Homo sapiens: one gene and its partners. The protein of the gene in region 2 binds, or shares a complex with, the protein of the main gene of each other region. Each region holds a gene or a part of one and is shown on either strand. Other genes may lie near its edges.

Region 1 (7,394 bases), about 29 Mb from region 2:
TTGACAGCATTTGGTTAGTCCCTTCCACTTACTCCCCCTCCTTCAAAAAGAAAGGATAAAGAAATGAAGAGGGGATTTACATATTATTCTCTCTCCTTCATAAATTTCAGAGAGCCAATTTCATAACCTCAGTCCCTCAGCCACATCAGTCAAACACAATCTGTATTTCTGGGTTCCCTCTAAATCTCTTACCTAACCCAGGTTCCCACAAGAACACTGAATCCTATGTGTCTTACTATGGTCATGGGTGCACAGACCACCAGCAGTTATTCTCTGAACACCTACTAACAATTAGTAGCTTCTCCAACAACCAAAGCCTTACTCTTAACATTCTTACCTACATGTACCAATAATGCTAGAAACCCAAAACATCCCAATCTGAAAACATTTTATCCTCCCTACACCCCAGCCCTCACCCTCACCCCAGCCCTGCTTCAGTGTCTGAATATGTATTAATAGCATTGCCATCCACCAAACAAAAAATGTGGAATTCTACGTTTGTCTCCCTCACACCAATCTCAATACACTCCCCCCATCCCTCCATTCCCATAGCCACTATTAGTTACTACTATTAATATACTAGCTACCATTTCATTAGTAACTACCACGTACTAATCACTTTACACATTTTATCTTACTTCATTCTCTCAATAACCCTATGAGGTTATATACTTTTTTCCCATTTCACAAATGAGAAAACTGAAGCTAAGAAAAGGTCATCTGCCCAAGTCGTAAGTAGGAGATGGCAAAGTAGATTTCCAAACCCTACCGTTCCCCCAAACCAAAATGCTTCATTCTGTAATACCTGATATATCATTCCTTTACTACCCATTCCAAATGTTGATTTCTTTCCTAGATAACCGCCAGGATTCTCCTAACTGGTCTCCTTGTCTCCAGCCTTGCCTTCCCTCATCCCTCAAGTGCCCTAAGTGATCTTTCTGGATCAGAAATCTGATCCTTTTATCCTCTTGATATGAAAGCCCTCCAGGAACATCCTTCAGTCCACAATGTCGAGGATACACTCTACAGGATGAATTCCAAGCCCTTTAGTGCAGCTCCACAATCGCTTACCTACAGTCCCGAAATTCAAAAGCTTTGAAATTTTAATTTTTTTCATTGGTTTGCAACAGAACCCACTGTGAATGCTGGGAGGTTATTTATCGTCTATCCCATTAGCGTGACATTCACGTGTTTCAATGTAGAAACATTAACGTGTTTGATAGAGTTAACTCAGACCCTGATAAAAGTCTCACATAACAGACCTTGCCAGAAAAAAGAAAAATCCCAAAATATTCTGAAGTCCTTACACCTGGATCCCAAGAGTTTAAGAGACTGTGAAACCTTTATCTTTTCAGCCCATCAATCCAATCTAATTTCCACCAATCACCCTACACAGTCTTTAGTTCCAGGGATGTAGAAGGGTGTCCTGTGCCCTGAATACCCTCCAACCCAGTGAGGTACTCATTCTTCAAGAAACCTGTTCATGGATTTCCTTTCCTGTGAAATTTCCCTGACCTTTCCTCTATTGTGCCACAACCATTGTACTGAGGACTCACCTCCACTGCTGCAAGTTATATGTTTCTCCTGTTAGACTGTGAATGAAGTCTTCATTGAGTACTTTATTCAATCCTAGCACAGTGCCCCAACACTAGGGGCTCATTAACGGCCAATTAGCTAAAACAAATTCATGCCCAGCTTTCCCTAACTCTCAATTTCCTTCAAAGTTCATTTCTCCTTCATCCCCAAACCTTAGGATTTTCCCTAACCATGCAGTCCACTTTCCGAGTTTCTCTTTCCCCATGTCATCTTACAATTTTCTTCCAGGCGCCTTCTCTGGACCCCTTGCTCTCCAACATATTCTCTCCACCTCCATTTAATCCATAGTCCTCCTCTCTCCTATCTGTGAACACGCCAAGTCCCCTCCCTCCAAAGCAATCCATCTTCACTGCCCTTACCTCTTACCTACTCCCTCAACACCTCGCTGGCCCGGGCCCTTTCAGCCAAAACGCTTCCTCACAACGTGTTTCCCAAATCCCCCTTCTCTCACTGTACGGGTCTGCCAGCTCCAGAACCAGCGCTCGGCCGGGTTCCGCACATCACAAACCCTCCCTCGGAGCCAGTGTCCCCTCCCCCAGCCTCTCGCAGCCGGCACCCCTCCCTTCATGCTCCCCTTATCTCTTGCGGTCCAGCTTCTCTGGAAAGTGTCCCAGGGGCGAGTCTTTCACCTTAGAGACCCCTCGGGATGGCGCCCGTCCGAGCAGCCCCAGGCCCCAGCACCTCCGTCCCCAGCTCCTCTAGGGTTGCGCAAATCCCTTGCGGCCCAGATGCCAGGCAGGGCCTCCGGCTCACCTTGCTGGATGTCGCCGTTGCTGCCCCCCGGGATGGGCACGCTGAGCTGGCGCTCCGGCTCGGGCAGGCAGCGCAGGCAGAAGGAGTGAAGACAGGGCAGCAGCTTGGGCTCCGCCTCACGCCGGCTCTGCAAGCTCTGCTGACACACGGCGCAGGTGTCCAGGAGCGAGGCTGGCGGTCCAGGAGGCGGCCCTGCCGAGGGACCCGGAGCGGGAGCCGAGGCTGGAGCTGGAGCCGGCGTCGATACTGCGCCCCCGGCAACTCCAGTGCCCACTGAGGCCGCAGGAGATGAAGCAGCCTGGGCCGAGCCCGAGGAGGCCGCGGCCACCCCCCCGTCGTCGGGCCCGGCCGCGCCGCCCTCAGCGCCGGCCCTGCCGCCTTCCTCCTCCTCCTCCTCCACCAGCACCGCGGTGAGAGGCGGCTCCGCCTCCTGCGCGGCGGGCCCGGCGGCCCCGGCAGTTACCGGCGCGCTGCCGCTGCCCCCGCCGCCGCTCTCAGCCTCGCCGCCGCCTTTGTTTTCCGCCATGTTTTCCTCTTTGAACCCGCCGGACCGCCCCGCGCCGCCCGCCGCCCGCGTCGCCGCCGCCGCCGCCCCCAGCCCCAGCCGCAGCCGCAGCAAGAGCGGCAGCCGAGAGCTAGCGAGAGAGCGAACCAACGAGAGCGCGCGCGCACGCGGCGCCCCCGCCCTCGCGTCGCGCGTTTGAAGGAGGGCGGTTGCGGCACGCGCACGTACGCACGGACGTCCTCCCGAGGGAGGCGGGAACTCGGTTCGCGGGCGCGGAGCGGTCCCGGACCCTCGAAGCCAGTTCCTTGCGTCAGTGCCGCGGCTCTTTAACCCGAAGGGAGATTTTTTTTTTAAAGCCAGAGGCCGTTGACGCTGGGTAGCCTTTGGCTGGGGTTGGTTATGAACTCCGACACAGCGGTGGTGCATACGGAAGGGTGGTAGCCGGGACGGTTCCGGTCCCTGCGAGCGTGTCCCGGGCGTCTCCGCGGAAGTTTCACCTGCCGCGCCGCTCGATCGCCGGGACCTCCTGGGTCTCTGCTGTGCGTAGACCAGCCGCGTTCCTTTGGGTGGCCGTGGAGCACTAAAGCGGGGCTTATTGTTTGTTTGGTTTTGGTTTTTTTTTTTGTTTTTTTTTTGCTTTTTGTTTTTGAACTGAGGATCTATCAGAAATAGGCTGAAAAGACCGAGTGAGGAAGAAACTCTTTAACAGCTATTTTTGGCATCTTAAGGTGATTCTCAGGAGTTGCTACGTATCAGAATCAACGGAGGAGTTTTTCAAAGCAGAGATGCCAGGGCCAGTCCCCAGACCTGAATCAGGAAGTGAGGGAGAGAGCCGACGGAGGGGGAAAAGTCCCTTCAGCTGATTCTTATGTATGTCAGTTTGGAGAGCCACGGATATAACCAATACTGCGTCCTTCTGAGGTCCCACTTTAAGTGTCCTGGGTTGAGCTGGGTGACAAATGCCCTTACAACAATGGTAGTAGAAGCTTTCAGGCCAAGCGCAGTGGCTCACGCCTGTAATCCCAGCACTTTGGGAGGCCGAGGCGGGCAGATCACTTGAGGTCAGGTCAGGAGTTCGTGGGCAGCCTGGCCAATATGGTGAAACCCCGTCTCTACTAAAAATATAAAAATTAGCCGGGTGTAATGGCGTGCGCCTGTAATCCGAGCTACTCAGGAGGCTGAGGCAGGAGAATGGCTTGAACCCGGCAGGAGGCGGAGGCTGCAGTGAGCCGAGATAGCGCCACTACACTCCAGCCTGGGCGACAGAGCGAAACTCCGTCTCAAAAAAAAAAGAAAAGCTTTCAGAAAGTTGCCTTTTTATTTGAAAAAAAAAAAAAGGTATTTGGAGGATTTTATGTAGTGCAACAACTGTTTTAGTGTTAAGATCATGAAATGCTTTGGTCTCCTGTTAGTGTTCCCAAGAAAGGTGCTGTAAGTCCTTAAACCACGTGAAAACTTTTTTTTTTTTTGAGACCTCCTCGTTCTGTCGCCCTGGCTGGAGTGCAGTGGCGTCATCACATTTCATTGCAGCCTCGACTTCCCAGGCTCAAGCCGTGCTCCTCGCAATTACCTGGGACCGTAGATGCACGCCACCATGACTTAGCTGATCTTTTTTTTCCCTTTGCCTCGAAGAGGCTGGGGTCTCACCATGTTGCCCAGGCTGAAACTCCTGGGCCCGAGCGATTGGCCCGCCTCAGCCGCTGGAAATGCTAGCATTACAGGCATGAGCCACTGCGCCCAGCCTCCTGAAAACTTTTTAAAATTTATTCAAAAATGTTTCCTGACCTCTTTATTGTCATAGTGTTTTAGAGATACACTGGGATTACAAAACAGAGGAGCTCCCTGCATTCAAGGGGTTTACAATCTAATAGAGAAAAAGATTGAGAATAGATACATGCCAGGGAGTGGTAAGTGCTGTGAAGAAAAGAATAAGTGGGGTAAAAGGGGTTAGAGGTGATTGAAGAAGGCCCCTGTTGATCAGATGAAGGAACCTGTCTTGGAGAAGAGCAGGAGAGGAACACATAACAAGTGCAAAGGGCCTGAGGGAAACGGATTCTTGGCTTGTTAGAGGAGGAGTCAGTGTGGCTGGAGTGGCTTGAACAAGGGAGAGAATAGTAGGACATGAGATAAGAGAGTTATTAAGGGAGCCAGGTCATGTACAGAAATGGTCTTCAATTTTTTTTTTAACTTTTGTGCCCTTTGAAAGAATTTTGGAAGGCTGTTTTCTTTCCTCAAACATTGTAAGTTGACTAAATTTTTTCAGAAGTTTAAATAGTTGCAGAGTTTAATTTGTGACATTCTGTAATACTGACATTTAAAAATTATTTTTAATCTAATAGGGAAGTAAACACTAAAGTGGCTTAATACTATCCATTTTTTAAAGTATATTAAAATGTTATATTTTTTAAACATGGAAAAGTATTGGGAATGTTTTAATGATATGGCTGGGAGTCTTCCCCCTTCCCCTAATTATTTCGAGTAGGCATGAATGCATATAACATTGCTAGAATGAGATAAGGTCCTGTATCAACTCCATTTTTCATTGCCACAGTCTTTACTGCATTAAAAACTATATATGTATACATGTATGTATCTACACACTCACATATATGATGGAGTAATTCCCTTAAAACTACCCTTACTTTTTTATGTACCCCTTGGAAAATTTTCCTTCACTGAAGTACCCCAGGAGTACTCATACCCTAGCCTTAGGACCACTGAGTCAGATAGGAAGGCTTGGATGGGTTTTGAGCAAAGACTCAAAGCAGAATTGTGAAAAGAGTCACTGTGGCTGCTTCCTAGAGGAATCACCTGTAAATGGTCAGTGGAATAAGGAAGACCAGTTAAGGGGCTAATAGGGTAATAACTCGGTTGGTTGGATCAGGTTAGAATCTGTAAAGGTGGTGAAAAATATGGAGTATAAATCATAAACACTTCTTCTCAAATTCACTTCAAAAAAATAAGCTAATGAACTGAATTTCTCAACCAAAAGTTTTGCTTCCATGAGTTTTCTTAACCTTTTGATGCCTGCTACATTTGCCTTTATTAAAATCTAGAATAAAAGTGTTGTTTTTGAAAACTATATAATTTGTATAGGATGGAAACAGCCCCCATGAAGTTCACTGTGTGCTCTGAGAAGGCAGTGCCTGGAGTATAACTCATGAAATATTTAGGATCATTGAAACAGACCCAGTTACATCCTTGATTTTCTGTGGGAGCCCAGAAATCTTGCAGGAGAAACTATGAAATAAGTCCACAGATGAGGCTGAGATACGATAATGCACAAACCTGTCTAATAGACTGCATAGCATGGGGTTCATTATGCCCTGGGACAAAATGCTTGGTTTGAATCTGGTTCCATCACCTACTAGCTATGTGATTTAGGGAAACTTACTTAGGTTGCCTCAGTTCCCTCAGTCATGAAAGGGTGTTTGCTACGGGTAGGACCTACCTCAAGGTTGCCTCACAAACAATATTTGTAAAACGTTAATAACAGCACCCAGCACATGGTGAACATGGATGTTAAAGTAGACCCAAAGTTCCCTGAAGGAAACAGAACTGGCAGGAGAAACACATGCCACTGAGAGAAAATTTCAAGAAGAGGAATCATGCTGTGGCCCAAACTGAGCAGCAGGTAGAGGTAGAGGCTGTGTCCAGCCATTTTCCTGACCTAGGCTACTATCCCTTGTTCCTCTGGTTTGAGCATTATCAGAAAAAACCAGTTCTGAAATAAAGGAAAGAGCTCTTAGGAGGTTCATAGCAGTTCTGCTATGAAGAAAACTCCTCTAAGTTGCTGGTAAACAATAGTGGAAGGAGTTTTCCAGTTGTCTAGGAAAGAGAAAGGGCATTGGAGGTGAGTGACCCAGGTAGGTAAGCAATGGTGAGAACACGATGTGTCCATCATCTGGGCACAGGAGGTTGGCAAAAGCAAGGCAGTAGCCCAAGGGTAGCGTGAAGATTTGCAAAGGCTGGTCTGCACCTTCTGGACAGAGCAGCCATGCTGAACAGCAGGAACAGAAGAGTACATGAGAACCGGCAGAAGGATGCTGAGCTGCAGCTGAAATCTGGGATATTTCTGTAAATGTACAATACTTGCACTCACCAATGGGTGAGGCCAGAGGATCTAAAGGTGACATTTTATCTTTTAAAGTTCACTTCTCAACTGGGTGTGGTGCCTTACACCTGTAATACCAGCACTTTGGAGGAAAACAGGAGGATCACTGGAGGCCAGTAGTTCAAGACCAGCCTGGGCGACATAGCAAGACCCCCATCTCTACAAAAAAAATTTATTAATACAAATTTTAAAAATAATGTAAAGTTTAGTTCTCATCATTCCATGGTGTACCAAGTACACTTTGACTTCTAGGTACTCTGTTGTCTGAGTGAGAACTATTAGTACCAAGAAAAGCAGGACAGATAGCAGAGTTCTGAGTCTAATTACTATCTATTGGCTTTTCTGTGTCTCTAAGGCCTTTCAGGGGCACGTTGTAATTCTAGTAATAAACACCACATTTGAACAGCAGTTTACAGTTGACAAAGT
Region 2 (4,952 bases):
TGCATTTTTATTCTATACTTTGTGGAAATTTTTTTCTCTTCCTTGAAATACTACCTCACCCACACATTTTTAAAAATCGCCAGATATTTACTCCCGCCCGCTTAAATTACTATTCTGGCTTGGACACCGCCTGTAGTATGCAATGAGGAAGATGCTGAGCTTTAATTAAGCTTATAGTTCCTAAATAAACCAGGAAACGAGTTTATAATTTTTAAGGGACTCGCCCCACCCTTACACTCAGGATCTTCCACATCTAGAAACTCCCCATAGTCTCTTGCCCCCATGCAAAACTTTACCCACAGAATTGGGAGCCGGACCTCTAGCCTTAAACCAGCGTGAAAAGGCTCGGCCGGAACCACAAGGACCATGCCTCTGCGGCTTTCTCTACTGCCGGCCAACTCACGGCTGGGCTTTGGGTTCTGTAACGTCACCCACCACGAGTGCCCCTGGCCCCTGACCGCTGCGCAAGGCAGACGCACATCAGATGGAGAGCCGGTACAGCTGCTCTTGATGAAAACGGCAGTGGCTCTGAAAAGAGCCTTTAGATCGACCACTTAAAAATATACCTTAGGCCCGCTCCCCGCGGATGCGGCTGACCAACTGGATGTCCTTGGGCATGATGGTCACGCGCTTGGCATGGATGGCGCACAGGTTCGTGTCTTCGAACAGCCCCACCAGGTAGGCCTCTCTGGCCTCCTGCAGCGCCATCACGGCCGAGCTCTGGAAGCGCAGGTCCGTCTTAAACTCCTGCGCGATCTCGCGTACCAGCCGCTGGAAGGGCAGCTTGCGGATCAGCAGCTCCGTAGACTTCTGATAGCGCCGGATCTCCCGCAGAGCCACGGTGCCGGGCCGGTAGCGGTGCGGCTTCTTCACCCCGCCCGTGGCCGGCGCGCTCTTGCGGGCCGCTTTGGTAGCCAGCTGCTTCCTCGGGGCCTTGCCGCCGGTCGACTTGCGGGCAGTCTGCTTAGTACGGGCCATGCTGTCTCATTGATACGAGAGGGTCTAGGCAGTCGTATTTATAGACATAGCCTCCTCTTGATTGGGCCTGAAAAGGAAATTTTCAAACTTGTGATCTCATTGGTTAAAATTCAGTCCTCTTTACTGGGGCGGAAGATTGTTCTGCTAATCTTTCTTCCCTTATTATTTCCCCCTTTCCTGATTTTTTTCTGTAATTTTATCGATCACGGATTGCTTTTGAAGACTTTCCTTTAAATTAGTCTAACTTTTGTAAAAGCAATGTATAAAGTGTTTTGCATCCCATTTTAACAGAGATTTTTTTTTTTCCCCGAATTCAAGCATGCCCTTCTATGAGCTATCAGCCTGTTTCAGGTTACCTGTTACTGAAGCTCTTCTACCATAGCTAACATTTATTTCATGTCTAGCATTTTGCTCAGCAAGTTAGATGCATTGTATACCATGAATGACCGAAGCTTAGCAAAAAAATATGTAATTGAAGGAATGAAAAAATTGATCTTATTTACTTGACCTTGGAACCCAGCCAAAGCCATTTCATGTGGGTAGTGTGCTGACCTATATTGACCTGATATTAGAGCCTCTGCCTTCCTTTAGTCTTTTCTCCCTGCGATGTGGTTCCTTCTTCCTCACCCTCACATCAATGGCCAATTAGGTCCTGCAGATGTTAAGCTTCTAAATCAAAGAAGGACAACACCAGAAATTCATTTCTCCTTTACAATGTAGAATAGTTTGTAAATTAGTGCTAATTAGCCAGATTACAAGTTAAAGTTTCAAAGCAAATTATTCATCAATTGCTGACTTGCTAACATTTTATTCAATAAAGTATTTTATAATGCTTAAAAGTTTAATATTTTTTTCTGTTCTCTATGAAGAGAGTAAAGATGCTTTGCTTTTTCAATTTCATGTGCTTTGAAGTATGTATTGTTCAGAACAGTAAATATAGTGGTTATGTAGAAGCAACTGATACTTAAAAGTTGTAGTAGTTAATATAAAACTTTTAATCATATGCTTATTTTACTAAAAAAATCATTACAAACTATAAAAACTCAAACCTGAGAAAAGCAGGCCCGAAACGCTTAAAACTTACTTTGATGGTGTCATTATGAACTATCTTCCTACTGAAGTCAAAGTAAAGTAAAAGTGATTTCAAGGGGACTTCCTGAACACTAAACACAAAGTAGAAATCTGTGAGCTTAATTAATATCTTCAAGAGTCTCTCATGGGCAGAAGCATCCTCCTCTCGAGAGATCTAAAATGTACAAAAGTGTAACTGATGTGAACAAATGTTATCCCTCTCTGTGGTAGTTTTGTAATAATGCCTTACAGACAGCAGGCACTACTCAGTGTTTAAAGTTCTTCTACATACACTTTATCATTTAATCCCTACTCTGTGAAATAGATCTTACTCTTCTCACTTTACAGATAAGAAAACTGAGTCTCAGAGAAATTATGGCTTGTCCTGGGTAAGTAACAAAGCCTGTGTAATATTCTAAAGCAAAAGAATGAAACGGTAATGATGAAACTTTCTATTTCATTAGGCTTAGAGGATACCTTTTTTTTTTTTCATTTGAGATGGAGTCTCACTCTGTCACCCAGGCTGGAGTGCAGTGGTAGGATCTCTGCTCACTGCAGCCTCCGCCTCCTGTGTTCAAGCAATTCTCCTGTCTCAGCCTCCTGAGCAGCTGGGACTATAGGCGCAAGCCACCACCCCCAGCTAATTTATTTATTTATTTGTATTTTTAGTAGAGACAGGTTTTCACCATATTGGTCAGGCTGGTCTCGAACTCCTGACCTCAGGTGATCCACCCTCCTCGGCCTCCCAAAGTGCTTGGGTTACAGGCATGAGCCCCACACACCCAGCCAACACAGTTTAAAGCACAAAAGCGTTTTCCCATCATGCAATCACATCATCTAGTATTTCTCAAACATCTACACCCAACTATTCCCATTAGAAGGGAAAACTACCCCATGGAATCTGGATGATAGCCCAAAGCAGCCCACCCAAGCATCACTTTTCTTTGCAATATACTTTCTCTATGATGTATGCAGTCTTGACCATAATGTAGGATGTGTTCATTTAAATAAGAAAATGGCATTCAATCAGACTTTAATGGCTATAGGTATCATTTCTCAGAATAAAACAATCAGATGTATAGTTGCCTTAAAAGTCATCTTTAATAACAGAATTCAGATCAATTGTTAGTTCAATTTCACCTAGTCCCCACATTGGACACTAGAGTGACATTTCTGTGAAAGGTCTCAATCCACCACTATATCAGAAGCAGCTTTATGGTGCAAAAGAAGCTCTGCTTTTCTTCAGTTGTAACAAAGACGGAATATTCCTCCTAAAATTTTTGAAGTGTCCTTCAGCAGAAATTATAAGGCTGTGCAGCTTGAATACTGAGAACAGAAATTTCATTAGGTAGCACGGGGGAATAGACAAGAGAAGATTAAAATTTACCTAACAAGAAATAAGCAGGCAAAAGAAAATATTAATAAATGAATTATTAGGCACATAATGTTTTGTATGTACATGTGTTTACTTTTAATACAAAAGTAACGGACTAAGTTAACATAGATGTTCCAATAAGATAATTTATGTTTCATTTTTTGGCTTCAAGTATCCTCAGGGTTATAAGTATCATAAGCTGAGACCGGCTGAATTGGTTTGTGGGTTGATGAAGCCCTATGCCTGATTTGAATTTCTCTTGAATGGTCTGCAGCCCTGGACCAAGTTGAAGAAGCCATGAGAGTCTCAGCTTTTTTCCTTACCCCATTATGAGATAAACTCATTCCTTAAATATCTTGCTCATTTGATAAAACTTGGCACCCTTCTCCTTTCTACTGGTCCCTGATACTTACTACCTGTACTGTAAGCTCAAATTTTTTACAATTTCTGCCTTTATTATGTAACGTATTCCACTGGAATATGTGTTACAGGAAAGGGGTCCCGATCCAGACCCCTAGAGAGGGTTCTTGGATATCCGGCAAGAAGGAATTCAGGGCCAGTCCATAAAGTGAAAACAAGTTTACTAGGAAAGTAGAGGAATAAAAGAATGACTACTCCATAGAGAGAACAGCCCTGAGGGCTGCTGGTTGCCCATTTTTATGGTTATTTCTTGATTATATGTTAAACAGGGGTGGGGGAGGTGGACCACGCCTATAATCCCAGCTACTCCAGAGGCTGAGACAAGATCATTTGAACCCGGGAGGCAGAGGTTGCAGTGAGCTGACATCGCTCCACTGCACTCCAGCCTGGACCACAGAGGGAGAATCCGTCCCCCGCACCCCACCCCCCCAAAAAAAATCACTGCCAGTAAGGAACAAACAGCCAAGACGAAGAAGTACTAAGATGTAAAGAGATGTAAAATAGGCCGGGCGCGGTGGCTCACGCCTGTAATCCCAGCTCTTTGGGAGGCCTAGGCCGGGAGATCACGAGGTCAGAAGATAGAGACGATCCTGGCTAACACGGTGAAACCCCGTCTCCACTGAAAATATTTTTTTAAAAAAAATTAGCCGGGCGTGGTGGCGGGCGCCTGTAGTCCCAGCTACTCGGGAGGCTGAGGCAGGAGAATGGCATTAACCTGGGAGGCGGAGCTTCAAGTGAGCCCAGGTCGCGCCACTGCACTCCAGCCTGGGTGACAGTACGAGACTCTGCCTCAAAAAGAAAGAAAGATGTAAAATACTGTGATACATTCTGCAAGAGTTATGACAGAGTCAGAAAGGGGCAAGCGTGTTTCTTCTCTACCCTGAAGCAGCCAAGGGAGAAGAAGGTATCTGTTGCCAACGCTGGGGTGTTACAAGTGCACACTGTCATGCCCGGCTAATTTTTTGGATTTTAGTAGAGACAAGGTTTCACTGTGTTGCCCAGGCTGGTCTCGAACTCCTGAGCTCAGGCAATCCACCCGCCTAGGCCTCGCAAAGTGCTAGGATTACAGGCGTGAGCCACCACGCCCGGCCTATATATGCATATTTTT
Region 3 (7,528 bases), on a different chromosome or scaffold from region 2:
AATAAATGCATGAATATTTGTCACCCCAGTACAAGAGAAATCTCTTGCCAAGACTCCACCTAAAACTTTAAAAATGCCTCTACTTGCTGGGCACAGTGGCTCACGCCTGTAATCCCAGCATTCTGGGAGGCCAAGGCAGGTAGATCGCTTGATCTCAGGAGTCTGAGACCAGCCTGGGCAATATGGCCAGATCCTGTCTCTATAAAAATTAAATATATATATAAAAAATAAAAGGCCTGGTACGGTGGCTCATGCCTGTAATCCCAGCACTCTGGGAGGCCAAGGTGGGTGGATCACCTGAGGTTGGGAGTTTGAGACCAGCCTGGCCAACACAGTGAAACCTCATCTCTACTAAAAATACAAAAATTAGCTGGGTATGGTGGCGGGCACTGTAATCCTAGCTACTCAAGAGGCTGAGGCAGGAGAATCACTTGAACCCGGGAGGCAGAGGTTGCAGTGGGCCAAGATCGCACCATTGCGCTCCAGCCTGGGTGACAGAGTGAGACTCTGTCTCAAAAACAAACAAACAAACAGAAAAACTAAAATAAAATAAATAAAAAAAAATAAAATGCCTCTACTGTTTAAACCTACAACTTCAGGTCTGCTACCACCAGTTCACAAGACTGAGTCACTGGTGATTTACCAAATCTAATGGTGTTATTAAGCCTATCCTAAAAAATATCTCTGCAGCAGTTGGCATGATCTTTTCTCCGCTGAGTAACTTTCTTTTCTTTTCTTTTGAGGTGTAGTGTCGCTCTTGTCGCCCAGGCTGGAGTGCAATGGCGCAATCTCAGGTTCAAGGAATTCTTGTGCCTCAGCCTCCCAAGTAGCTGGGATTACAGGCGTCTGCCACCACGCCCAGCTAATTTTTGTATTTTTAGTAGAGACGGGGTTTCACTATGTTAGCCAGGCTGGTCTTGGAACTCCTGACCTAAGGCGATCCACCCATCTCAGCCTCCCAATGTGCTAGGATTATAGGCGTGAGCCACCGCTCCCAGCCTTTTTGTTTTTGTTTTTTTTTTGAGGCGGAGTCTCACTCTGTTGCCCAGGCTGGAGTGCAGTGGCATGATCTCGGCCCACTGCAACCTCCACCTCCCAGGTTCAAGCGATTCTCCTGCCTTAGCCTCCTAAGTAGCTGGGACTACAGGGGCACACCACCACACCTGGCTATTTTTTTTATTTTTAGTAGAGACGGGGTTTCACCATGTTAGCCAGGCTGGTCTCGATCTCCTGACCTCATGATCCGCCTGCCTCAGCCTCCCAAAGTGTTGGGATTACAGGCATGAGCCACCGTGCCTGGCCACCAGCCTTTGTTTTTTTTTTTTTTTTTTTTTTTGAGAGGGACACGGAGTCTTTCTCTGTCACCCAGGCTGGAGTGCAGTGGTATGTATGATCTTAGCTCACTGCAATCTTCACCTGCTGGGTTCAAGTGATTCTCCTGACTCAGCCTCCCAAGTAGCTGGGATTACAGTCACATGCCACCATGCCCAGCTAATTTTTTTTTTTTTTTAAAGTAGAGACTGGGCTTCACCATGTTGGACAGGGTGATCTCAAACTCCTGACCTCAAGTGATCTGCCCGCCTTGGCCTCCCAAAGTGCTGAGATTACAGGCATGAGCTACTGTGCCCAGCCTGTCTACCTCACTTTCTAAGCAGGAAGAAGCCACCTTAGATTCTTCCTTCTCTCTCAACCACTCAGTCATTCAGTCAGTCCTTTCATATTTAACTCCTAAATACTTCTGTAACTCCCTAAAATCAGGTTCTTATCTCTGTCCTGGAATGTTATCACTAATTGATCTCTGTTATCAACAATATCATGCTCCAATTTACCATATATTAGTCATTTTCCTCTATAAAAATCATACTCTACTTTAAAATGCAAACTTCTTCGTTTGGCTTAAAAGACCTTGTCCAATCTAGCCTCAGCCTCTTTCTCCAGTCTCCTTTCTCAATTTCTTACCTTAGATTCATAAATATCAAATACGCTGACCTCTGAGTCATAAATATCAAACACCCTTGACCTTGCCACAAACCCATCACAGTACCTTTGCGGATGCTTTCCCCAACCTGGAATTCCTTTTTTCTCTCCTCACTGGCAAATAACCTTCAAGACCCTATTCAAACATCACCTCCGCTGTAAAGCTTTTCCTACATCCCCAGGTAATTACCCCCCTTTTCTCCAGGGTTGCCTACCAAGTGTCCTTTTTAATGTATTTCCATTATCTCACTTGTCACAGTGTTTTATAATTATTTGCAGAATCTGTTTCCTACTAGATCGTGAGCTTCTTGAGGGCAGGAGCCTTGTCTTACTCATTTTTCTATCCCTAGTGCCTGCCATTATGTCTGACCCATAGCAGGACCTCAATAAATATTTGTTGAATAAATGACTCCGGGCCCTAAAACAAATGTAAGCGCACAGAGCAATAGGCTTTCTGCAGGGGTGGTTTACATAAATCGCATAAACACCAGATTTTCATTTGATGGGAATTAGATCTTTACTCCATGAAGAGAAGCGTTCTAGTTCATCATCTGACAGTGGTCACTCATCACCACCACTCTCAACCCCATGAGAAGCCACTTTTGAGGAAGAATGGAGTGGAGGAGAGGTCTTTACCGCTTCTCCAAATGGCAGTGTGTGATAACGATTCTGAACGACTATGGGGAAAAAAATCTACCGAGGCTGGAGACCCTGGAGAATGGGGGCAGCAACTATCTTCCTGGCCATGCACACTAGCCCTTCAAGACACGTCTCTAACCCCCACACCGCACCCCTCCCTCGTCTACACCCATCAGCGGGGCCTCGATCCTGCTGCCCCGCCCCCTCTTTCTCCGCACCCTCCAATATTTCCTGCCACAGAACCGCTTCATAATTGTGACCTTCTCGTCACTGGAACTTAAGGGCTACAGATCCTCTCATCCCTGATCCCCGCACCACTCTGCAGCCCCGACCCCCACCTCCAGCCTGCTCTTACTGTCCAGATAATGTTCCAAATACATCCCCGCAGCCATCTCGAAGCAAAACAAAGCAACTTCCGATCCGCCCCGGAAGTGACTGTAACGCGACAGGGGCCGAAGCCATTTTGCGGCTAAAGCCTTTCCGCCCTTAAAAGGAGAACTTCCGCCCTTAAAAGGAGAACTTCCGCCCTTAAAGGAGAACTTCCGCCCTTACTATATTACCGCCGGTACACATCCGCCCGACACTGAAACTTTTCCTTTTGCATGGTAGCCACGACCGCCCACAGTGAGGCGGCTGTAGCCCGCTTCCGCCCTTACAGACACCCCAGGACGCGACCGAGACAGGTATGACGTCACTGGAGGTCGCCATTTTGCATTCTCTAGCAAACTTTTTTCCCTCCAAAACGGGAATGTATGGTAATCCGTGCAGGGGTAACTGTTCACTTTAGGCTCATATTGCGTAAACATACCTTCTCAGCAACTGGAAGATCCAACTTTTTTTCCCTCTTTTGCAGAATGACTTTTTTCAAGCCAGTTAGTTTCTTAAGGAAGTTGGGGAAGAGTATCAGGCCTTGAGACATTTAAACCGTCTGAATTTCTATTCACTCACACAAACACCATCTCCCCCAGCATTATTTTTTTAACTTGAGAAAGATGATCACCTTTCTACTTATAAATACAAAGAATGACTCATAATAAAGCTATAATTCTGCACATCTTTTGTCAGAGCTCCTGTACGTTACACTAGAATACACTTTCACATATAAAATATTACTTCCTGCCTTGCCCTCTTGCTTTTTTTTTTTTTTTTTTGAGACAGAATTTTCACTCTTATTGCCCAGGCTGGAGTGCAATGGCGTGATCATGGCTCACCGCAACCTCCACCTCCCGGGTTCAAGTGATTCTTCTGTCTCAGCCTCCCGTGTAGCTGGGATTACAGGTATGCACCATCACGCCAGACTAATTTTGTATTTTTAGTAGAGATGGGGTTTCTCCATGTCGGTGAGGCTGGTCTCGAACTTCCGACCTCAGGTGATCTGCCCACCTCAGCCTCTCAAAGTGCTGGGATTACAGGTGCGAACCACTGTGCCTGGCCCCTCTTGCTACTCTCTAAGGGGGAAATCTCGTGTTTTTGTTTTCCTTTTGTTTATATGTGATGTTAGCATCATAATTCTGAAGGGATTGAGGGATGCAGCAGTATCACTACTGGGCTAGTTGGCTAGTTAGTTGCTAGCCATCACTCTAGTCAGCTATGGTAGAGTGATTTCTATGGTTTTCATCAGAATGGGAAGCAGTCAAGGGTATGAGAGGCTGCCAACACACTAGGCTGTCAACACACTGCCAACACAAAGGCCATAACCTAATAGTGGTGTTAGTAAGATAGTATTTTAGAGATAGCTGCCACCCCTCACACTTTTCGTACCCTCACACATCCTTCATAAGAATTACCAATGTCTTACGGCAAGTTTTTAAAGAGACAGACTTTCAGCTATATAATTTCTACCAAATATGTGGAGAAGAGGAACTTCCAACCCGGGGCGGATTGGAAGTTGCTTTGTTTTGCTTCGAGATGGATGCAGGGATGTATTTGAAACATTATCTGGACAGTAAGAGCAGGCTGGAGGAGGGGGTTCAGGGGCTGTAGAGTGGTGGGGGTATCAGAGCTGAAAGGATCTGTAGCCTGTAAACCCCAGGTTTACTAGTGTGCAGGTAGTAAGATACAGCAATAGAATCCGGGAAACTGCTCTAATTACAAAAGTCATGCTTTTCGGTAACTTGATCTCTGTGCCTGTTTTACTATACAATGAGACTACTACCTCCCTCATAGGGTTGTTGGAATAAGTGAGTGTGAGTGTATCCATAAAAAGAGTAGATTCTAGTTCTAATACTGGTGATGAAGTTAGGGCCATTAGGGCCTTTTCAAGAGTTGGTGAGAGTGGGAGGAAAAAGCAGTAAATATGCAGGGAGCTAAGAAACATTGGCATATTTGGTCATATGTGATACATTCATTGGTATTACACAACATATTGAGACACCATCTTAGGTGCCCACACAGGATATCTAGCACTAAATTAAGTGGGCTTTATTTATCCCAGCCCAACTACATAACAAGTACTATTGGCCAGCAGTCCCAGAGTTCTCAGGATGTGGGAGCTTGGTCACAACTTTCACAACTTTTTCGGTGCTTAAAGCAAGGTTTTTTTTTTTTTGTTTTTTTTTTTTTTTCCAGACAGAATCTCGCTCTGTGGCCCAGGCTGGAGTGCAGTGGTGCAATCCCGGCTCACTGCAACCTCCGCCTCCCAGGTTCAAGTCATTCTTCTGCCTCAGCCTGCAGCTGGGACTACAGGCGCGTGCCACCACACCTGGCTAATTTTTGTATTTTTATTTTACTTTTTTGAGAGAGAGTCTCACTCTGTCGCCCAGGCTGGAGTGCCATGGCACGATCTTGGCTCACTGCAACCTCTGCCTCCTAGGTTCAAAAGATTCTCCTGCCTCAGCCTCCTGAGTAGCTGGGATTGCAGGCGCCCACCACTATGCCTAGCTTATTTTTTGTATTTTCAGTAGAGACGGGGTTTCACCATACTGGCCAGGCTGGTCTCGAGCTCCTAACCTCATGATTCACCTGTCTCGGCCTCCCAAAGTGCTGGGATTACAGGCGTGAGCCACCGTGCACGGCCATCAATTTTTGTATTTTTAGTAGAGATGGGGTTTCACCATGTTGGCCAGGCTGGTCTTGAACTCCTGACGTCAAGTAGTCTGCCTGCCTCGCCCTCCCAAAATGCTGGGATTACAGGCGTGAGCCACCGCACCCAGCCTTAAAGCAAGTTACTTAATTCTCAAAAAAGGTATCTTCAGAGTTATCTAGTCCAATCCCTTCACTAACAGTTGAAGAAGCACCCTGGCCAACACTGGTTGATGGTAGGCAAAGGGCTGAAGTCCAGGTTTCATGACCACATTCTACTCCATAGTACTACAGCTCTCCTGCATAAATCAATCTTGCACCCCTTAACCGGTTATGATTTCCACAAGGTAACAAATACACATATGTATACACATTGCCAACTGCAAGCCCCTCTTCCACAGACTCAGGCAGGAGTGTAGGTCCTTTCAAGAGGCTTCCATTTTTCTTCCATAGGGAGCTTAGCTGTTTTGTTAACACATAACCAAAGCCTTGCTCTCACATATTTAGGCAATGCAATCCCCATGACAGAATGTGTATGTAGAAGTCCTCATAAACCAGGATTTCACTGGAGACATCATGAAACTGTACCCTTCCATGACTGGAGAATTGCACAAATGGGGCATCATCACACAAGCACTTGTTCATCACACACACACTCTGGTATAAATCCTCAGTACTGTTCTTGGACATCTCCCCAAATACCTTTTCCGCATGCTCGCTCACATCAGTAGCTCCACTGCCTCTGATCCTTTTACATGAATTTATTTCTATACAATGTTCTAAAAACACCCCTTGGTTTGTACATAAGTTTTTTTCTTTTTTTCTTCATTTTTAAATTACTTTATAACAACTGGTTTCCTGATTTTTTTTTTAATTTCCTTTCCTCTGAAATCTGCCATGATTTAAAAAAAAAAAAAAAAGACAAAAAGAAAAATGCTGTGGCTAGAGGACAGGGGTGGAGAGAGGGAAAAAAAGGACAAAAATAAACAAAACATCAAATATGAAAATTCTCAGAGATAATGCATTTATAAACACAGAAATGGTTACAACAAAGATGGCCGTGATGAGTGAGTATAATATATTTATATATATATATTTATATATAAATCCGTGTCCGGCATCTGACTGTGGCACCTAGGGAGCTAAGTCCAGTCCTTGCGTTTGCCTTGAACTCTCCCTTCTCCGCAACACCCCTGTTTTGGAGTTTCACAGATAACACAAAGCCTCCCACAGCTCCTTGGGGGTGGGTTGGGGAGACTGAGAGTATAGGGTCTTTGTAGGCAGAGAAGGAGAGAGGCTTCAAGGAAATCCGTAAAACCATAACACACACTTCTAAGCCACCTGTGACCAACTTGGGAATTTCTGGCCCCTTGGGGACCACATCTCAGCCCTTGCCCCCTTCAAATAAAAGGAGGTCTAGCCCCTACCCCAAATCTCCTTCTACCAGCAGTCAATAGGAAGCAAAGTGAGACGATGTAGGGGAAGAAATGGCTCTCAGGGACTGAGGCATTTGAGAAACCTCTGTTCTTTTGCAGGCAAGAATAGAACAAGAGGCTGGTTGCATTTGGGGCTCCCTTTTCTCTGTTATCTGGGAGGGCCAGCCTCTAGTCTTACATCAGCCCAAACTTTGAGGATAAGGAGGGTAAGGATAGGGTAAGTGGCCACACTGGACAAGGTTCTATGAGGTCATAGCAAATCCTTCCCTTGAGCACCGACCCCCAGTTTTAGAAGCTTTGCTTGGGAGGGGAGGCTGCTGGATGACACCATCAGCTCAGTATTCCTTTGCAATCAGGAGGGCTGATGTTCCTTTTGAAGAAGAGTTCAGAAAAAGGATGGTATCCTGTGAAGGAAAGCCGTGACAGAGGCCCAAGGAGATGGAGCCAAGGCCTGT
Region 4 (7,472 bases), on a different chromosome or scaffold from region 2:
GGGAACCATTCAAATGTGGCTGCAGTTTCTGTTATCATAGATAGCCTGAGAATGCTACAACAGGGAATCATGACACCAAGCCAATTCAACCATAAACTGTCATTCTTGTACTTTTTTTTTCTTGCTGGTAATTTTATGTATTAGGTTGAGAAAGCTAATCTATGTTAGAAGAGCCTGTATACCAATAATTTTAATAAACAGTTCTGTGATTTTTTTGGGTATATTTTCATTTCTACCATACCACCAATAATTTATCAGAGATCTATGTAGCTTGAATGTATTTGAGTAACTTCAACATACTTCAGCTCTCCTCCCTGATGTGACCCAAAGAGCCAGTAGGTCCTAAGTGTCCTATGTGTGTTAGAAGCCTGAAGTCAGTGAGATGAAGCCCAACCCAAGAGTTCAAGTAAAGCAACTTGTGGGGCAAGAATATAAAGAAAACAGTGGGTAGTTTGGCAAGAGCATAATTATTAAATTTTCTGGTTTTCAAAAATGTGAACTCCAATAAGAGGACCTTCAATGTGCTGTTTTTGCAATTTTCAGTAACAAATGTGTGTACAGAGAAAATAAAACTGACATATTTGAGTAGCTTTAAAAAAAAACTTTTTTTAAAAAAAGGCTGCATGATGAATCAGTTATGTGGCTTTGGACCAGTAAGGAGTCAATTTCAACCCAGACTGTTCTGACTTGGAAGGCCATTGTGATTCCATGTCTAACTCCAGAATATTGTTTTCACAATACCATAACATCTTCTAAACTGAACAAAATACTTGCACGAAATAGTTGATTCTCTTCTTCCAATTTCTTTTCATTCATGGAAAGGGAAAGAAGACACATTGAATTAAGCATCCAACAAATATAAATACAGCATTAACATTTAAATGCTATCTCAGCAAATATTTTAAAGGATAAACCAAAAGAATGTATATCGAATATACTAGAAAAAAGATGCTAGCAATGAAGGAGTGCAACCAGTAACGTTGTAACTATGTGCAATCAGGTAAGTCACTGGAAGTGAAAACCACCTAAACCTCTGGCAGCTAAAACCAAATTAGTAACTCTCATCAATATGATAGCCAAATTTGAGACACTACCCACGAAATGCAGAGGGGCACACATCAGGCACATCAATATTGTGACCCCTCAGTTCACAAGTAAGGGAGACACACAATTATCTGAGATACACTTTAAGGACACCAATGACCAACATATGGCATCGCAATGGCTGTTCCAGGGAACATCCATTTTCACTGTTTCCTGGATTTCAGGCATAGAAAGATGACTGAAGACATATAGTGGCCCTTTTGCCTTGACCCAGTTCATAACCATTGTAAAAGTAACCATTTCACTACTCAAAAGATTATAAAGAAACTATTTTTCCTAAGAATCTAGGATCTACTACCTATAATTCTGGCATACACATTCTTTACAACCTTAATATATAATTATCAAATCTGATAACGAACGTTCTGTAAATTACCAGGTACTACAATATTTTGGTGTTTGCCTTTTAACTAAAGCTGAGGGGGGAGAGTGGGGAGGTTGGAAGAAGCCTCATTTCACCTGCCCTTTCCAAAATTTCACTTCAAAAGAGTGTTAAAAAAAACTCAGTATATCCAGGTATAAATCTCCAAGTTTAATTTTCACTGCTTAACAAAAGCGATGTAGAAAGCAATTACTGTACCCTCCATTAATCCTTTCGGATTGCATGGAATTCCTTCCAGAAAATTCCAATAGAAAAAAAGTTAAGACAGGTAATCGCGTTTTGGTACGTGTGTCGTCTCTGGCACAAGTCATGTAGAGTGAAATCCTTTAAGACATTTAAATGTTCCTGGTATTGTTTTGTGATTAACGTGATAAAATTGCCAAACAATCCATATTTACCATGAGTGAAAACACTTCCACCACGTACGGAAAATCTCTCCAAAACACAAAATCTGATTCAAAAATTATAAGTAAAAAGAGAATAAATGTAAAAACAATTCCATAAACAAACTTTGAAATGCGTATACGATGACATTACTGAAGCCATTACTCAAAACGAACCTCTGTAAAATCGAGAACGCACAATCAATGCAATAAAATGCTCGAGAAAGCCAAACCCGAGGCGCTGCGCAGTTCCCGCATCGCACAATTCGTTTCAACACATTCCTTGACGAATACACCCAAGGTCACTCACGATGGAGAGGAAAAGTGCCTGTCTCTCTCCAGAGCACGCAACCCGTTCGCCGCGCCCCCACGGAGGGCGGCGAAGAGACGGCGCATCAGGAAAGGGGCTGCGCGGGCGCGAGGACTGGCCGGTGGGCGTTCCGGCGCCGCGAACCGCGGAGCCTGCAACTTACAAGGTCCGCGGCCATCCCCCGGGCCTGGGAGGGGTGGCCCCAGGGCAGGCCCGCGTCCCCGGGGTGACCCGACCCGTCGCGCCGGGGTCCCGCCCCTCCCCCCGCCCCGCCCCCGTCGCCGGCCCGGGATTATGCAACGTTCCCCCTCCCCGCCTGCATTCTGGCGCAGCGCCCCCTCCCCGCGCCCGACTGCGCAGCGCCGCCGCCCCCTGCCCGCCGGCCTCCCCGCCCGGCTCCAAACAAAGCGCGCGCTAAGGGGCCGGCGGCGGCCGGGGAACTGGGGACGAGAGGGTGGCGGCCATGTTGGCGGGGGGCGGCGGGGATGGGGGCACGGAGGAGTAGGGGCCGGCGAACAAAGGAGCGCGCGCCCGCCCCGAGGCCCAGGCCCGCCCAGCCCGGGTCCCCGCCGCGGCCCAGCCGGCAGGGGGCGCTATGCGGGCGCCGCCCGCTGGACAATGCTCCGCCGGGCCCCGCGCGGGCCGCGCTCACCTGCGCCCCCGGGCAGACCGCCGCACCGCTGGCCCGCCCGCAGCCCGCACTCCCTCACGACCCACGCCCGCCCTGCGCGGGCCTCACCTGCTGACCGCCGAGGCTGCAGTCCACAGGCCCACGGGTTCCGCCGTCGCTCGTTCGCGCTCCCGCCGGCCCCAGCCTGAGCCAGACGGCGCCTCCCCGCCCCCGCTCCCTCGCCGCGGACGCCGCCCGCCCCCCAACAGTCAGGGCGCACGCGCACTGCGCCCGCCGAACTGCGACGGCCGCGCCGCCCCGGCGCCTGGCGCCGACGGCCGACTGCGCAGGCGCAGTGGGGCGGGGCGGGGCCGGCGAGGGCGGGGCCTGGCCCCTCTCACCTGGCTGGCGGCAGGGCGGGGCTCGAGCCCGGGACTGCCAGGTGCGCGCCGGGAATGGGCGGCGGCAGGCGCGCGGGGCACAGGTTCCTGAGGGGGCGCAGCTTTTCCTGGAAGGCAGGCAGCCTGAGAAGGGCTTCGTTTTTGCGCAGTAGGACGTTGAAGAAAGGACAAGCCCCCTTTGTCCTGGACGTAAGCCGCAAGTCGTCCTGAGTGGTGCACACCGCGAAGACTGAGGAAACTGGATCACAGGGCTGGGCCGTGAGCCTTGAACCTCGGAGAACGTCGCATTACTGCTCCAGCGCGCCGGTTCAGGGCCGCGGGACGCGAGCCCTTTAAAAGGATGGATTTGCTTCCTGTGACTCCCTGGAAGAGACGTCTTCACCACCGCACTGCGTAGAGGCCGGCGTCGTCGCCGGCTCACCCCGCTTGCTGCCTCCCCGCACAAAGCCCAGCCCAGGTAGCTCAGGTTAGCTGGAGCCCCGGAGCCTCACCTACAAGTACCTGGCCTGTCCTAGGTTGTGTGGGGACGGGATGTGGCTTCTGCAAGCCCAGAAACCTGTTTCCACTCCCCCACCACAAATGGAACTCACCCAGCTCTACTCGCAAGGTTAGGAGCCAAAAATTCCCATGATCGCACGCGAATTCATTTGACTTCCGTTTCAGTTAAGATGCCTTTTCAGCATTTTGTTGCTTGTTTGCAGAAGGGAGAGAGGTAGGATCAAGAATAGTTTTTACTCCTGCAGAGTCGAGTGCGAGACTTGGAGGCTGAGTCCAGGCGCTCTCCCCTCCCCGCCAGTCCCGTGTCCTGGAGCAGGTCACTGACCTGGTTCCTCGAGTGCGACAGCGCAGCCTCATCGTAATAAACCGCCTCCCAAAGCGTTGTCAGATCAAATTCCAGAACATGTTACTGGAAAGCACCTTGAACACTCTAAACTGCAGCACAGTTATTAGTTAGCAATACTCTTTGGGGTTTCACTGGCACCTTTTCTAACAAATAAGATTGATAGATGCCTGCTCAAACAAATTGAAGTGCTTGTCTCAGATGACACACTTGGCAGGCATGGGACGTTCACAGGCCAACTAGAGAGCTAATTTCAAAACTGAGATATAAAAGTGTATCGCTGTACTTACAAGTTACCAAGTGTTGAGAAATTACTCACTTTCATTTGTGTGTTTAATGTCTTTTTTGTTTTTTTAGACGGAGTCTCACTCTGTTCCCCAGGCTGCAGTGCAGTGGCATGATCTCGGCCCACTGCAACCTCCGCTTCCTGGGTTCAAGCAATCCTCACATTTCAGCCTCCCGAGTAGCTGGGATTACAGGCGCGCACCACCATGTCCAGCTAATTTTTAAAAATATTTTTAGTAGAGACGGGGTTTCGCCATGTTGGCCAGGCCGGTCTCAAACTCCTGGCCTCCAGCAATCCGCTGGCCTCGGCCTCCTGAAGTGCTAGGATTACAGGCGTGAGCCACCGCGCCTGGCCTGTTTAATGTCTTGCAGTGGGGTCATCTCCGAAACAAAGAGGGATGGGAAGAAGGTAGGTGCCAAGAAGTCTGCTGGTTGGAAGATTTCATCTCATTGGCGAGATCCCTGGGTTTCTCCACCTCAGCAGTGTTGGCTTTTGGGATGGGATAATCCTTTCATGTGGGGTCTGTTCCATGCTTTGTAGGATGTTTGACAGCATCCCTGGCCTCCACCCACTAGATGCCAGTAGCACACACACTCCTCCAAAATTCACGGAAAACGTCTTCAAAGTCAAATATGTGGCCCCACCTTCATCTCCATCCCCAACCCCTGATTTAAAATTTGCCACTGGTGATGATCTCATTGGGAGCTATTGAGAATACACAGGACTGTGGTTTACACCTGTAATCCCAACACTTTGGGAGGCTGAGGCTGGAGGATGGCTTGAGCCCAGGAGTTTGAGACCAGCCTGGGCAACATAGCAAGACCCCAACTCTAAAATAAATAAAATTTTAAAAAATTTTAAAAAGGCCAAGAACAGTGGCTCTCACCTGTAATCCCAGCACTTTGGGAGGCCGAGGCAAGTGGATCACTTGAGGTCAGGAGTTTGAGACCAGCCTGGCCAACACAGTGAAACCCCATCTCTGCTAAAAATACAAAAATTAGCGAGGCGTGGTGGTGCACGCCTGTAATCCCAGCTGCTCCAGAGACTGAGGCAGGAGAATCGCTTGAACCCAGGAGGCAGGGTTTGCAGTGAGTCGAGACTGTGCCACTGCACTCCAGCCTGGGTGACGGAGTCAAACTCCATCTCAAAAAAAAATACACAGGATTGTGGCTCATGCCTGTAATACCGGCACTTTGGGAGGCCAAGGTGGTAGGATGGCTTGAGCCCAGGAGTTCAGGACCAGCCTGGGCAACATAGCAAGACCCCAACTGTACAATAAATAAATAAAATTTTTTAAAATGAAACAAAGGCCGGCCAGCTGCAATGGCTCACGCCTGTAATCCCAGCACTTTGGGAGGCCGAGGCAGGCAGATCACTTGAGGTCAGGAGTTCTAGACCAGCCTGGCCAACGTGGTGAAACCCCATTTCTACTAAAAATATAAAAATTAGCCAGCCGTGGTGGCAGGCACCAGTAATCCGAGCTATTTAGGAGGCTGAGGCAGGAGAATCGCTTGAACCCAGGAGGCAGGGGTTACAGTGAGCCGAGATTGCACCACTGCACTCCAGCCTGGACAACAAGAGTGAGACTCCATCTCAAAAAAAAAAAATTAAAAATAAAAGAATGCACAGTCCAGTAATGTCACCCAGCCCTATATCAGTAAAGGTCACACTCTAGAGTGGTACATATCTCAGCTGCATCTAAGGCCTTGCTAATTAGCTCATTAGAATGTCACAAATGGGTTTTTATATTACCCATGTATAGCTGCCAAAAATGTTTAAGTGAATCTAATCAAAGTTGGAAAAAAAAATAAGAAAAATCCAGGTTGGAAGACATTCAGCAAAACAATTTCCCTGCACTACACTCTAAAAAAAGTCAAGCTAGGGAATTGGTCCAGACAGATAACACAACTGGGTTGGTCCATTAAGTGACCCCTGATGCAGCACTGCATTGAAGGCAAAAAAGCTGTGAGAGAGATTTGAGGGACAACTGGGGAACTTTGTAGTTATATATGGACTATATATTAGACAGTATTATTGTATCATCATTAGATTTTTCAGTGTGACAGTGGCTATTTACAAGAATGCCCTAGTTCTTAGGATGTTAGTGCTGAATCATTAGACAAGAGACCTGATGGCTACAACTGACATATAAATGCCTCAGAGACTGATGTATTTTATATGGAGGTAAAGCAAATGTAACAAACTGTTAATAGTTGGTGGATCTAAGTGATGAGTCTAGGTGTGTTATTGTGCAGTTTTTTCAACTTTTCTGGAAAACGAACTTTTCAAAATAAAAAATTGGAAAAATAGAATTCAAGTTAATTTATGAATTTCTAGGATACTAAGACCATTGATTCAACTTGCCAGGCAGCTCCTGCTGTCCTCCAACTTGCTAATGAAATGTTTTGAGAAACTTACCTATATAGCAAATTTCTTTTATTTTGCTTTTGTTATATTTTGGAGAAGGAGTCTTGCTATTTCGCCCAGGCCTGGCTTGAACTGTCCATCCTTCACCTTGGCTTCCTGAATAGCTGGGGCTACAAGCATGCACCACCAACCCTGGCATATAGTTAATTTCTTTGCAGTTTCTCAACCATACTCAACTTCTAGAGATTGGATCAAAGGTTCTACATATATTTTTCCTCCTATAGCAAGCTTATTAAATACAAATTGGCATGTTAAAAACCTTGGCCGGCTGGGCGCGGTGGCTCATGCCTATAATCCCAACACTTTGAGAGGCAGAGGTGGGCAGATCACCTGAGGTCAGGAGTTCGAGACCAGCCTGACCAACACGGTGAAACCCCTTCTCTACTAAAAATACAAAAAAATTAGCCGGGCTTGGTGGCAGGCGCCTGTAATCCCAGCTACTCGGGAGGCTGAGACAGAAGAATCGCTTGAACCTGGGAGGCAGAGGTTGCAGTGAGCCGAGATCGCGCCGTTGCACTCCAGCCTGGGCAATAAGAGCGAAACTCCGTCTCAAAAATAAATAAATAAATAAAAGCCTTGGCCTATACTAGATGTATATGTCTTTTAACTCTGGGTTCCTGGGCTCCTACTTGGGAGGATTTCTGCCCCAAGGATGAATATGCTTGTGATTTGGAGTGGAAGAAGGAAGAGATACCAAAGGCATGAGGGGTGGTTATATCTACGGTGAA

The links.
Region 1: the proteins of H3-7 (region 2) and TRIM33 are in contact, whole or in part, in a crystal structure (PDB 5MR8), measured with the Homo sapiens proteins. Residues at the interface, in NP_001342338.1 of Homo sapiens: Ala2, Arg3, Thr4, Lys5, Gln6, Thr7, Ala8, Arg9, Lys10; in NP_056990.3 of Homo sapiens: Asn886, Glu887, Asp888, Trp889, Cys893, Asn895, Gly896, Gly897, Asp898, Leu899, Leu900, Cys901, Cys902, Glu903, Cys905, Val908, His910, Phe921, Pro922, Ser923, Gly924, Asp925.
Region 3: the proteins of H3-7 (region 2) and ING4 are in contact, whole or in part, in a crystal structure (PDB 2VNF), measured with the Homo sapiens proteins. Residues at the interface, in NP_001342338.1 of Homo sapiens: Ala2, Arg3, Thr4, Lys5, Gln6, Thr7; in NP_001121054.1 of Homo sapiens: Tyr198, Ser205, Tyr206, Gly207, Glu208, Met209, Ile210, Gly211, Cys212, Asp213, Trp221, Phe224, Lys232, Pro233, Arg234, Gly235, Trp237.
Region 4: the proteins of H3-7 (region 2) and SPIN1 are in contact, whole or in part, in a crystal structure (PDB 4H75), measured with the Homo sapiens proteins. Residues at the interface, in NP_001342338.1 of Homo sapiens: Ala2, Arg3, Thr4, Lys5, Gln6, Arg9; in NP_006708.2 of Homo sapiens: Gly93, Phe94, Asp95, Cys96, Tyr98, His139, Met140, Phe141, Glu142, Thr143, Lys148, Asp149, Trp151, Tyr170, Asp173, Val175, Tyr177, Tyr179, Gln180, Leu181, Asp183, Asp184, Asp189, His252.

What each region holds. Positions count from the first base shown.
Region 1 is NC_000001.11:114,508,202-114,515,595, forward strand, and holds the start of TRIM33 (E3 ubiquitin-protein ligase TRIM33), read right to left. Parts: upstream 3,003-7,394; 5' UTR 2,876-3,002; coding exon 2,350-2,875; intron 1-2,349. UniProt on the Homo sapiens protein: Acts as an E3 ubiquitin-protein ligase. Promotes SMAD4 ubiquitination, nuclear exclusion and degradation via the ubiquitin proteasome pathway. According to PubMed:16751102, does not promote a decrease in the level of endogenous SMAD4.
Region 2 is NC_000001.11:143,904,989-143,909,940, forward strand, and holds H3-7 (histone H3-7), read right to left. Parts: upstream 990-4,952; 5' UTR 979-989; coding exon 568-978; 3' UTR 522-567; downstream 1-521. UniProt on the Homo sapiens protein: Core component of nucleosome. Nucleosomes wrap and compact DNA into chromatin, limiting DNA accessibility to the cellular machineries which require DNA as a template.
Region 3 is NC_000012.12:6,660,094-6,667,621, forward strand, and holds the start of ING4 (inhibitor of growth protein 4), read right to left. Parts: upstream 3,027-7,528; 5' UTR 3,009-3,026; coding exon 2,972-3,008; exon of another isoform or gene 2,955-2,971; intron 1-2,954.
Region 4 is NC_000009.12:88,383,985-88,391,456, reverse strand, and holds the start of SPIN1 (spindlin-1), read right to left. Parts: upstream 3,014-7,472; 5' UTR 2,919-3,013; intron 2,346-2,918; exon of another isoform or gene 2,258-2,345; intron 1-2,257. UniProt on the Homo sapiens protein: Chromatin reader that specifically recognizes and binds histone H3 both trimethylated at 'Lys-4' and 'Lys-9' (H3K4me3K9me3) and is involved in piRNA-mediated retrotransposon silencing during spermatogenesis.